Homo sapiens: one gene and its partners. The protein of the gene in region 2 purifies or fractionates together with the protein of the main gene of each other region. This does not show direct contact. Each region holds a gene or a part of one and is shown on either strand. Other genes may lie near its edges.

Region 1 (3,650 bases), on a different chromosome or scaffold from region 2:
AAAAATCTTTACTACCTGGCTTAGGAACTGTGTGAACTTTAACTGAATGTGACGGTTCACCAGAGCCCAACTTCTCTCCTACGAAATCTTGTGACTGAAGTAATTCCTGAGGTTCTTCTTTCTTTGAATTTTTTCCTTCACTCTCTAAACTCTCTTTGATGTCATCACTGAGTGTTTTAAGATCACACTGTATATCCAGTTTATTTATCAATGCAAAGTCACCCGCAACAGCATCATCCATTGTGGAATCCATGGGCTCATCTACAAATCAGAAGAAATTAAAAATCCATCAGCTGGGTTATTTGATACAGTTAGGTAAATACAGAAATACAATGTTCCTATTATCCATTGTGGCAGAATTACTATCTGTCCACCAAATCCATTCTCATCCTCCAAAATAAGAGAGCTGCACTTAAGACTGGCACAGCTGGGCATGGTGGTTCATGCCTGTAATTCCAGCTCTTTGGGAGGCCAACACAGGAGGACTGCTTGAGGCCAGGAGTTTAAGACCTGCCTGGGCAACATAGTGAGACACTATCTCTACAGTAAATTAAAAAAAAAAAAAAAAAACAAAAACTGTGGCGCCCTAGCAGGGCAATGTACTGCCAGTCCCTTTACAAGTGGTGACCAAGCTCCTGCCAACAGAACATAACACAACTGATACATCCAATTATGCCTCACTAGTTTTAAAGGAAACTTGCGACCCTGAACTTCTACCCTTCCCCACAATGGCTGGATTAGTAAAAACCAGAGCAACCTGGGAAATCACATGTTAAAGAAAAGCCCAGAATGGCTGGTGGGGAGAAGAGTTGAACGCCAACCTAGAACACCCACACTGAACTGTTATGTGAGGAAAGAAACAGACTTTTTTTTTTTTGAGGAGTCTCCCTCTGTCGCCCAGGCTGCAGTGCAGGGGCGCGACCTCGGCTCACTGCAAGCTCCGCCTCCCAAGTTCACGCCATTCTCCTGCCTCAGCCTCCCAAGTAGCTGGGACCACAGGCGCCCACCACCATGCCCAGTTAATTTTTTGCATTTTTAATACAGACGGGATTTCACTGTGTTAGCCGGGATGGTCTCGATCTCCTGACCTCGTGATCCACCTGCCTCGGCCTCCCAAAGTGCTGGGATTACAGGCGTGAACCACCATGCCCGGCCAAGCCCGGCTAATTTTTTGTAATTTTAGAGAAGACAGGGTTTCACCGTGTAAGCCAGGATGGTCTTGATCTCCTGACCTCGTGATCCGCCTGTGTTGGCCTCTCAAAGTGCTGGGACTACAGGTGTGAGCCACCACACCCGGCCCCGAAAGAAACAGACTTTTATCTTTCTTTTAGTTATTGCATTTTGGTATCTTTTTGTCATAGCTGTTTATTCCTTTACTCTAATGAGTACATCACTCCTAGTTCCAGGCACAGATAATTCAGAAGCCTGTAACAAGTCAAATAAACAACCAAATATAAACACTACAAAAGAAAGAGAGGCAGCCAGATGTGGTGGCTCACACCTGTAATCCCAGCACTTTGGGAGGCCAAGGCGGGCAGGTCACAAGGTCAAGAGTTTGAGACCAGCCTGGCCAACACAGTGAAACCCCGTTTCTACTAAAAATACAAAAAAATTAGCCAGATGTGGTGGCGGGTGCCTGTGGTCCCAGCTACTCGGGAGGCGGAGACAACAGAATGCCTTGAACCCGGGAGGTGGAGGTTGCAGTGAGCCAAGATTGAGCCACTGCACTCCAGCCCGGGCGACAGAGCAAGACTCCGTCTCCAAAAATAAAAGAAAGGCAACCACCAATTTACAAATGGACAGCATCTTCAATGCTTATCTCCATGTTCATTTTTCTAACTCAGAACCTAATTCCTTTTTTTTTTTTTGGTGGAGACAGAGTCTTGCTCTGTCACCTAGGCTGGAGTGCAGTGGCAGGATCTTGGCTCACTGCAGCCTTGACCTCCCTGATTCTTGTGCCTCAGCCTCCGAGTAGCTGGGACTACGGGCGTGCACCACGAAGCTCGGCCAATTTTTTGTTGCTCTGTCACCCACGCTGGAGTGCAGTGGCACAATGTCGGCTCACTGCAACCTCTGCCTCCCAGGTTCAAGCGATTCTCCTGCCTCAACCTCCCAAGTAGCTGGGACTACAGGCGCCTGCCACCACGCCAGGCTAATTTTTTGTATTTTTAGTAGAGACAGGGTTTCACCATGTTAACCAGAATGGTCTCCATCTCCTGACCTCATGATCCGCCTGCCTCGGCCTCCCAAGGTGCTGGGATTACAGGCGTGAGCCACTGCCCCCGGCCCCAATATGAAAATTTAAAGAAATAAAACCAAAATTAGTAAAAAGACTAAGAAAAAAAGCAAATCATGTGTAACTAAAGTTAAATAAATGCTATTATGTTTTAGCAAAGCCACTCACAATTCAAAACTGATCACACAAATAAGAGGATTTCAAACAGTATAATTTACTGAAGTAAAGCCTTATTCAAACACAGAAAAGCTGATCTTTATTCAGCATTAAAAGGAATAGGGCAATCTTGTCCAAGCTGCATGTAAGCACTTGCTTCTTGAGAGACAATGGCACTTTCTATTTACTTCATAAGGATAGTATTAGGATCAAGAAAGATGAGTTATCAAAGCATTCTGGAAACAGATATTTTGATAAACTCCAAGAAATCACAAATTTAACATGATCCTCAATATTCTTTCCACGCTAAACTCTTCTGATATATATTCCCATGCCTTGACTTGGGGGCCGATGGTAACAGTAATAGCAGTGCTAACAGTAGTCGCTGTCATCATAGTAGTAGCAGTACATGACTGTATTAATGACCCTTCCCCTTCCCAAGATGACTGAAAGTGGGACCGTTGCAAAGACAGATAGTAAATCGTTTTTAGACCCAGCCCATCTTACCCTCACAACTTCCTTTGGGAACCTCCCCTTTAGCTAGAAATTTCAACATTTTTTTCAAAACCTTCTTGTGAGATTTTGAAGGCTGAAATTGTAAAGGTCGGCACCTAGGAAAGCAAAATAAATATTTAAAAAGTGAACTCAAACCTTGAAGAAATGAAATCAGTTCTGGATATCACCTAGTACAATGAGACCATCTCATGCCTGAGATTTCTGGTTAAAGATGGGGCTTAATGTAGCCTCTAATCCCAGCCCACATCACACTAAGATTATAGTTAAGAGATTTTTTTTTTCTTTTGAGATAGAGTCTCACTCTGTCGCCCAGACTGGAGTACACTGGCACCATCTTGGCTCACTGCAACCTCTGCCACTCAGGTTCAAGTGATTCTCCTGCCTCAGCCTCCTGAGTAGCTGGGATTACAGGCATGCACCACCATGCCCTACTAATTTTTATATTTTCAGTAGAGACAGGGTTTCACCATGTTGGTCAGGCTGGTCTCAAACTCCTGAACTCGTGATCCACCTGCCTCGGCCTCCCAAAATGCTGGGATTACGTGCATGAGCCACCATTCCCAGCAAGAGATTTTTTTTTTTTTTAAAGAGAGAAAGACATAAAACACTAGAAAAAAGAGAAGGACAGAAGTGTTAGAAGCTGGAAAACAGATATACAAAGCAATGCTGTTTTAACAGACCAAAGAAAGTTGAATCCTAGGCCAACAGTGGAAAAAAAAAAAGCCAATTTTCTCTATATTAC
Region 2 (3,650 bases):
GTCTCCCAGGGGGTCCCAGCATGGCTGGATCATAATAACAACTAATGTCTATACTGCATTTATTCTGTGCCATCCCCATTCTGAGTGTTTCTACATGTATGAACTCACTCACTTGATCACTACAAGAAGTACCATTGTTGGCCGGGTGCGGTGGCTCATGCCTATAATCCCAGCACTTTGGGAGGCCGAGGCGGGCGGATCACTAGGTCAAGAGATCGAGAACATCCTGGCCAACACGGTGAAACCCCATCTCTACTAAAAATACAAAAAATTAGCTGGGCGTGGTGGTGCATGCCTGTAATCCCAGCTACTCAGGAGGCTGAGACAGGAGAATCGCTTGAACCCGGGTGTAGGAGGTTGCAGTGAGCCGAGATGGCGCCGCTGTACTCCAGTCTGGGTGACAAAGCGAGACTCCGTCTCAAAAAAAAAAGAAGTACCGTTATTATTCCTATTTTATAGATGAGGAAACTGAGGCACAGGGGATTGAATAGCTTACCCCAAATCCCACAGTAAGTATGGAGCTGGGATTTAGACCCAGGCTGTTAGGCATTGAAGACCATATTCTCAGCCTTCGTGCTCTGTTGGGACCTCTGGAAGGAGGAGCACCCTGGAAGGAGGAGGCTTGGCCTCCAGGCCCCAGCAAACTCTGTTCTTGGAAAAGGATTGGAAAGAGTATTTGAATTAGCAGTTTCTTTCTTTCCTTTTTTTTTTTTTTTTTTTTTGAGACAGAATTTTGCTCTTGTCGCCCAGGCTGGAGTGCAATAGCGCGATCTCGGCTCACTGCAACCTCCGGCTCCTGGGTTCAAGAGATTCTCCTGCCTCAGCCTCCCAGGTAGCTGGGATTACAGGCACCCACCACCATGCCAAGCTAATTTTTGTATTTTTAGTAGAGACAGATTTCATCATGTTGGCCAAGCTGGTCTCAAATTCCTGACCTCAGGTGATCCACCCGCCTCGGCCTCCCAAAATGCTGGGATGGCACGCCCGTCCTGAATTAGCATTTTCATAGTGAAAAGCACCGTGGAACTTCAGGCCCAGGCCAGCAGCGGGAGGCAGGGGAGGCTGTCCTGCCTCTAGCCCAAGACAGGAGCTTTAGGAGCAGATGGTGGCTCAGAGGCACATCTGGGGAGGGCGTGGGAAAGCGTGTGACAGGTCCAGCTGGTGCCACAACCACAACTCCCCCTCTGTCCCCACCCGCACAGGTGGGTGTTTCTCTATGAGAAGGGCTACCAGACCTCGAGCGGCCTCATCAGCAGTGTCTCTGTGAAACTCAAGGGCCTGGCCGTGACCCAGCTCCCTGGCCTCGGCCCCCAGGTCTGGGATGTGGCTGACTACGTCTTCCCAGCCCAGGTGAGCTGGCTCAGGTTTGCACCTTCCCCTCACAGGGCCTGTCTCAGAGTTGGGTGGGACTCTGTCCCACGTCCCTGTGGGACCAGCCCAGCTCCTCTTTCTCTCTGGACCTCTGTGAATGCCGGGCAGAAGCAGCCTGGTGATATCACCCCATGTTGGTGGCAGGGGGTGTGGTGGCTGCTGCGTGTCCTGTGGGCTCTAGGGGCCTCTGCTGGGGCAGCGGTGGGGCCCTTGGGGCTCTTCTCCCAGCTCCCAGCCCACCCCACCCTCCCCCTGCCCCTCACTTCTAGGGGGACAACTCCTTCGTGGTCATGACCAATTTCATCGTGACCCCGAAGCAGACTCAAGGCTACTGCGCAGAGGTGAGGACTTCTGCCCGCCAGCCCCCTTCTGGGACTCACAGGGGAAAATGACGTGCAGAGAAAGTCTCCAGGGGCACTGGAGGGGAAGCCAGAGAGGCTTCCTGCAGGGGCCATAGTGATGGAAATTTGGGCGCATATTCACACACAGCAACTGTCAACCCTTGCAGAGCTGAGCCTTCCCGCCCAGCACACGGTGTACCAGGCAGGGTGCCGAGACTTCGTGCCCACCCCCACCGCCCAGCTGACATTGGCAGTGGGCAGCTGGGCATGAGCCCGGGGGGCGCCTCGGCAGAGCAGTGTGGGGGGAAATGGGGGAAGGAGGCTGTGAGCAGGCGTCACTCCAGAGAGGTCTGAGACTCTGCCCCACGCTCTCCCTAGGGCCCTGGGGGGTGGGGAGAGGGGCTCTTCTCAGGACCCCACCCAAGGGGCCTGGGACCAGCAGCTTTTGCCTCCCCCAGCACCCAGAAGGGGGCATATGCAAGGAAGACAGTGGCTGTACCCCTGGGAAGGCCAAGAGGAAGGCCCAAGGTAAGGTCAGCCTCCTCCTGTCCCTCCACAGTCCCCCGGCTGCGGTCCCTGACGTCCTGCAGGCCCAGCTTGGTGCTGACCTGCCTCTCTCCACACCCCTCCCGCCGAGGCGGCCTCCGGGAGGGACTCCCTCCTGCCGTCTCCCCTCCTCCGCCCTGGCTTGGCCTGCCCGTCCGGGACCCAGCCACGTTTCTGTCCTTGGCTCCTTTGCTTGAGTGGCCCGTCACTGGGAGCTCCTGGAGAAGGGGTCTGGGGCGGCCTCCTCTGTTTAGTGCAGGCACCCAGGGGTTTCCCTCTGGCTCCAGGCATCCGCACGGGCAAGTGTGTGGCCTTCAACGACACTGTGAAGACGTGTGAGATCTTTGGCTGGTGCCCCGTGGAGGTGGATGACGACATCCCGCGGTAACACTCTGACCTTCCAGAGAGCTAAGAACAGGGTCCCAGGCCAGACAGAGGGGGGCCTAGGTCTAGAAAGGATCTTTACCCCTTTTTCTGACCCCACCCTCACCCCATCCGCGCAACCTAGGCTGAAGATTCCCCTGGGTCCTGGCCACGCTAGAGCACACCCACCCCTCCACCAGCCCAGGGCTGCAGGCGGGTCCCGGAGGCTCGGCCCACCCCCTGCTGTGCCAAGCTCTGTGTGGGACACACAGGGGGCCTCCTGGGGAGGGGCGGTGAGTGCGTGTGGTGTCCTCCAGCCCTGCCCTTCTCCGAGAGGCCGAGAACTTCACTCTTTTCATCAAGAACAGCATCAGCTTTCCACGCTTCAAGGTCAACAGGTGCGTGGGAAATTCGGGCAGAAATGCAGGCAGCTGGCCGGGGCCGCTCCGGCAGCTCTCAGCTGTCTCTGTCTCCCTCCATTCCTGCTGGCGTGGAAGGAATCAAAGGGGCAATGTGGAGCCTGTGAGGGGTCCCCAGGCTTTGGGGCGTGGTGGGCACCCTCCCGGATGACACACAGCAGCTGTCAACACCTTCCACCCCCACAGGCGCAACCTGGTGGAGGAGGTGAATGCTGCCCACATGAAGACCTGCCTCTTTCACAAGACCCTGCACCCCCTGTGCCCAGTCTTCCAGCTTGGCTACGTGGTGCAAGAGTCAGGCCAGAACTTCAGCACCCTGGCTGAGAAGGTATGGAGCATGGTGCCAGGCACGTGGGGAGGGCTGGGCCGCAGGATCCTGATAAAGGCTTTTTAGGCCCAGTTCATCTTCCCAAGTCTCCTCGGTGAGGGCTGAGTATATGTATGGGTCTGTCCCCTGATACTGGGGCCCCCTGAGCGTCAGATCCATGTCTTCAGCAGGTCCTGGCATGGAACTGGCACGAAGGAGGTGCCCAGAATGAACGGATGTGGGCAGACCTTGTCATCTGGATGTTTGTTGATGCCCTGCTTTAAAAAAAAAAAAAAACTAGAT
Region 3 (3,650 bases), on a different chromosome or scaffold from region 2:
GGATAGGAAGAAAAACAAGAAAGGCAACTCACTTTTTCTTTACAGAATCTAATCCATAGGTCCCTGCTGATGTGTAATAGCCACATACAGTTTTCACATTAACTGTTTCCTTCATTGTCTCACCACACTGCTGTATTAAACCGTCCTGTAAATATAAATAAGCACTGGAAAGGCCCATTTCACGTGGGAAAAATTAGCTCTGACAGCTTTTACATATTAAAAAGTAAAAGAAAAAAAAAAAGAAGAAAGAAAAGAAAGAAAACTCATTAAGTGCAGCAAACCTAAGTTTTTTTTTTTTTTTTTAACAAGTCCAATAAAAATACTGAAAAAAGTTCAGCAAGTATTCAACTAAATACTTGGAATTTGAAAATGGAAGGTGGGGGGGAGTAGTAAGGTAGAGAATGAATACTGCTATTCTTTTTCTTTTCTATTCTTCCCCTGTCTGAGACCTTTGCAAATTTCTTTAGCAGCATTTTGTCTGTTTTGCCATTTCTTTTTAAATTAAGAAGTCTACATAGTCAGTTAACCATGTGATGGGACTAAACTAACAGTATGCATTAGCAGAAAGTGATCAAGTTTAAAATAACTACAATATCTAAGAGATAGACTTAAAACAAGTATATTATTATTTCAAATGATTAACATTAAAGTTTTAACCTAAAATGTTTATATAGGTTTTAAGTGAACTAACTTTAATATATGGGAAGAATACTACTTTTCATTCAAATTTCTGAAATACATTCATCATGCAGGTATATTAAGTTAAAGAGTTAGTAAATCATAAAAGTAAGCAGAAGGTGAATTTAGAACAAAACCAAAAGGACCAGAGTTAGATAATAAAGTATACTTATTGGAAGTAAGTATTGAAAGGATCAAAACATTTTGAAAATCAAATGATCTCAACCAAGGATATTTAGCAAGCTATTAATACTTCAAATAAATCAGTACAAAAATACCACATAAAAGTAAACAATTTTTTAAGATTAAAATAAAACATTGACTCCATTAGGATTTTAAACTTACCTGGAAATCATTCTAGACTCCTCCCCTTTCCTCTTAACATTTAGTCTATCACCAAGTCCAGTGGATTATCCCTGAATCTCTCTGGTATCCACTTTTTCCCCTCCAAGCTTATTGCTACTACCCTACTTTCCTCCCTTGGACGAATGCAACAAGTTTTTGTCTCTAATGCTGTACTCATCTTTCCTTCAATTCATCTGTCACATTGTTACTGAAGTATTCTTTCTAAAACATAACTTCGTCTTTCCCCTGATTAAAATATTCCAAAGGTACTGTGTATGCTAAACTTCTTAGCAATGTATAGATGTATTTTCATGATCTGGCTTCTGCCCCCCTCTTCTGCAATCCTTCTTATGTTTATGTGGGAGCCATGTTTCTGTTAGAGTCTTGAATCCTCCATTATTTCACATCACTAGATCTTAGTTTACTCTGTTCTCTCTGTCTGAAATGCTCTTCCTTCCCCTCTTCTTACTTTGCAATACAAACACACTTTCAAGACTCTGTGTGAAAATGTAACTTTCGTATGTGACACCACCAGGATGAACTGACCACTCCCTTCTTTATCCATTCACTAAATGCTACAGGATGTTTATTATCATACCTATAATATTGAACAGCTCTTACTTTACCTTTGGGTTTGTATATCAACCCTCCCTCCCCTCTCCACACATACATACTATGTTGTGAACTTTTTGAAAGTAAGGATTACGTCTTAAGTTACCTTTGGCTTTCTGTGTCTAGTTTGACACAGTGCTCAACACACTTCTCTTCAATGAACAAATCTGTCATTCTGCCAGTAGATTAAAATACATATATGTGATTTATACACAATTCTTTCAAAATTAAGAGAAATTTAAATAGTAGGCATGCATGTTTATTTGAACCCATGAATGAAATTAATTGGTAATCATAAGCCATCTGCTTAATAGTCAAGTCATTAATGAAATCTGTAAATGACCTTAGACAAGTACGTTTTTTCCACATTATAGTCATACTAAGATATCTACACAGAAATGGCCTGCATTCATTTTATGCAGACATCATGACTCCCTCGGTTGTAATAAATTGCTTTTGGTTAGGCATTTTAAATGATTTATAATAAATGTCATATTTATACATTTCATTTTTATTTAAAAACTCCAAAAAAGCTAAGCTTTATTTTTGTTTTTGGAGTACACACTTTGAGACAAAGATTATTATTCTGAACCTTTCTTCGAATAACGTGCATACTTACCAACTGCAGCAAACAAGCTGCTGCCAAAATGGCAACAACTCGACTGGGCTTTATCAAGACATCATCTCGATACAGTGAACCAAATGCAACCTGCAGTGCTGAAAGCAAGGTACACATGTAGGATGAAATAATATTTATATCTATTACAAGTGTTATACAAATAACAACAACGACTGTCTTCACACACAAAGACATCCGTCTAAATGTGGCATGCACATAAAAGGATAACAGAAGTATCTCTAATTAAAACGCTAGTAATGGTTACTGGTTGACACTGTTAATTTAATAACAAGGTTATAAATTTCTGTTTATTCTACCAAATCTAGCTGCATTCTTCTAACATGTAATCTTGACATCAGTGGTCACAACCAAGATGCCTTGCAAGAAGTTGTATAAGATACTCCTCAGTAGACCAATCGTTAAGTACAAATACGCAGACTCAAAGATAATCTTAACCCGGCTGCTTTCAGCACTCCACCACTGAGAAATGTGGTACAGCTCCTGAGTCCTGTCCATGCCACACTCATTCCCAGCCCCCACAGTGATCTATGCCTGTTCATCCTTCCTCCACTGCCACTGTTATGAATGTCCCACATGGTTTGCTTTGTAAATATTCTTTTTTTTTTTTTTGAGATGGAGTCTCGCTCTGTCGCCCAGGCTGGAGTGCAGTGGCGCGATCTCGGCTCACTGCAAGCTCTGCCTCCCGGGTTCACGCCATTCTCCTGCCTCAGCCTCCCAAATAGCTGGGACTACAGGTGCCTGCCACCACGCTTGGCTAATTTTTTGTATTTTTTTAAGTAGAGATGGGGTTCACCATGTTAGCCAGGATGGTCTCGATCTCCTGACCTTGTGATCCACCCACCTTGGCCTCCCAACGTGCTGGGATTACAGGCTGTAAATATTCTTAACTAAAGTATTTCTTTGCCTTTGTATCGCACCAGGTACTTCCATGTGGACCACCAATGAGGGGAGCAGCAAGAGCACTGGAATGGGAATGAGGAGAGCTGTAGTCTGACACAGGCTCACTAAACTGCTCTGAGATCCAAAATAAGTCCCTTAACTCCTCTGAGCCTCAGCTTCCTCAACTAAGGATTCTTTTAGCTCTAAAACAATATTTTTATTTATTGTTCCCAGAAAACATCTTCATACATAGGGAATAATCAGTATTATTTATCAGATTTTCTATGTAATTAAAAAAAAAAATGGTCATACTTTTCCTTCCTCCATCCTACATCTTCCATATCCCAGGTGGGCATATTTACAAAGATAAGTAAACAAACTGATAAGGCCCAAATGACAAAACAGATTAGTGATAAGATGGACAGAACTGATAAACTATGGTGTAAATCAACATCAAATTATCACCTTGAGGTGATAAAAGGAGTTTTCTAGACTA

What was found.
Region 1: the proteins of P2RX1 (region 2) and ATE1 purify together in Homo sapiens (affinity purification with mass spectrometry; 2 studies listed by BioGRID and IntAct, with this or other methods). This does not show direct contact.
Region 3: the proteins of P2RX1 (region 2) and GMCL1 purify together in Homo sapiens (affinity purification with mass spectrometry; 2 studies listed by BioGRID and IntAct, with this or other methods). This does not show direct contact.

Annotation. Positions count from the first base shown.
Region 1 is NC_000010.11:121,910,891-121,914,540, forward strand, and holds part of ATE1 (arginyl-tRNA--protein transferase 1), read right to left. Parts: intron 3,004-3,650; coding exon 2,900-3,003; intron 262-2,899; coding exon 16-261; intron 1-15. UniProt on the Homo sapiens protein: Involved in the post-translational conjugation of arginine to the N-terminal aspartate or glutamate of a protein. This arginylation is required for degradation of the protein via the ubiquitin pathway. Does not arginylate cysteine residues.
Region 2 is NC_000017.11:3,902,920-3,906,569, reverse strand, and holds part of P2RX1 (P2X purinoceptor 1), read left to right. Parts: intron 1-1,202; coding exon 1,203-1,350; intron 1,351-1,640; coding exon 1,641-1,712; intron 1,713-2,170; coding exon 2,171-2,240; intron 2,241-2,545; coding exon 2,546-2,642; intron 2,643-2,766; coding exon of another isoform or gene 2,767-2,938; coding exon 2,939-3,019; intron 3,020-3,226; coding exon 3,227-3,368; intron 3,369-3,650.
Region 3 is NC_000002.12:69,839,644-69,843,293, reverse strand, and holds part of GMCL1 (germ cell-less protein-like 1), read right to left. Parts: intron 2,353-3,650; coding exon 2,255-2,352; intron 1,812-2,254; exon of another isoform or gene 1,742-1,811; intron 207-1,741; exon of another isoform or gene 179-206; coding exon of another isoform or gene 146-178; coding exon 33-145; intron 1-32. UniProt on the Homo sapiens protein: Possible function in spermatogenesis. Enhances the degradation of MDM2 and increases the amount of p53 probably by modulating the nucleocytoplasmic transport.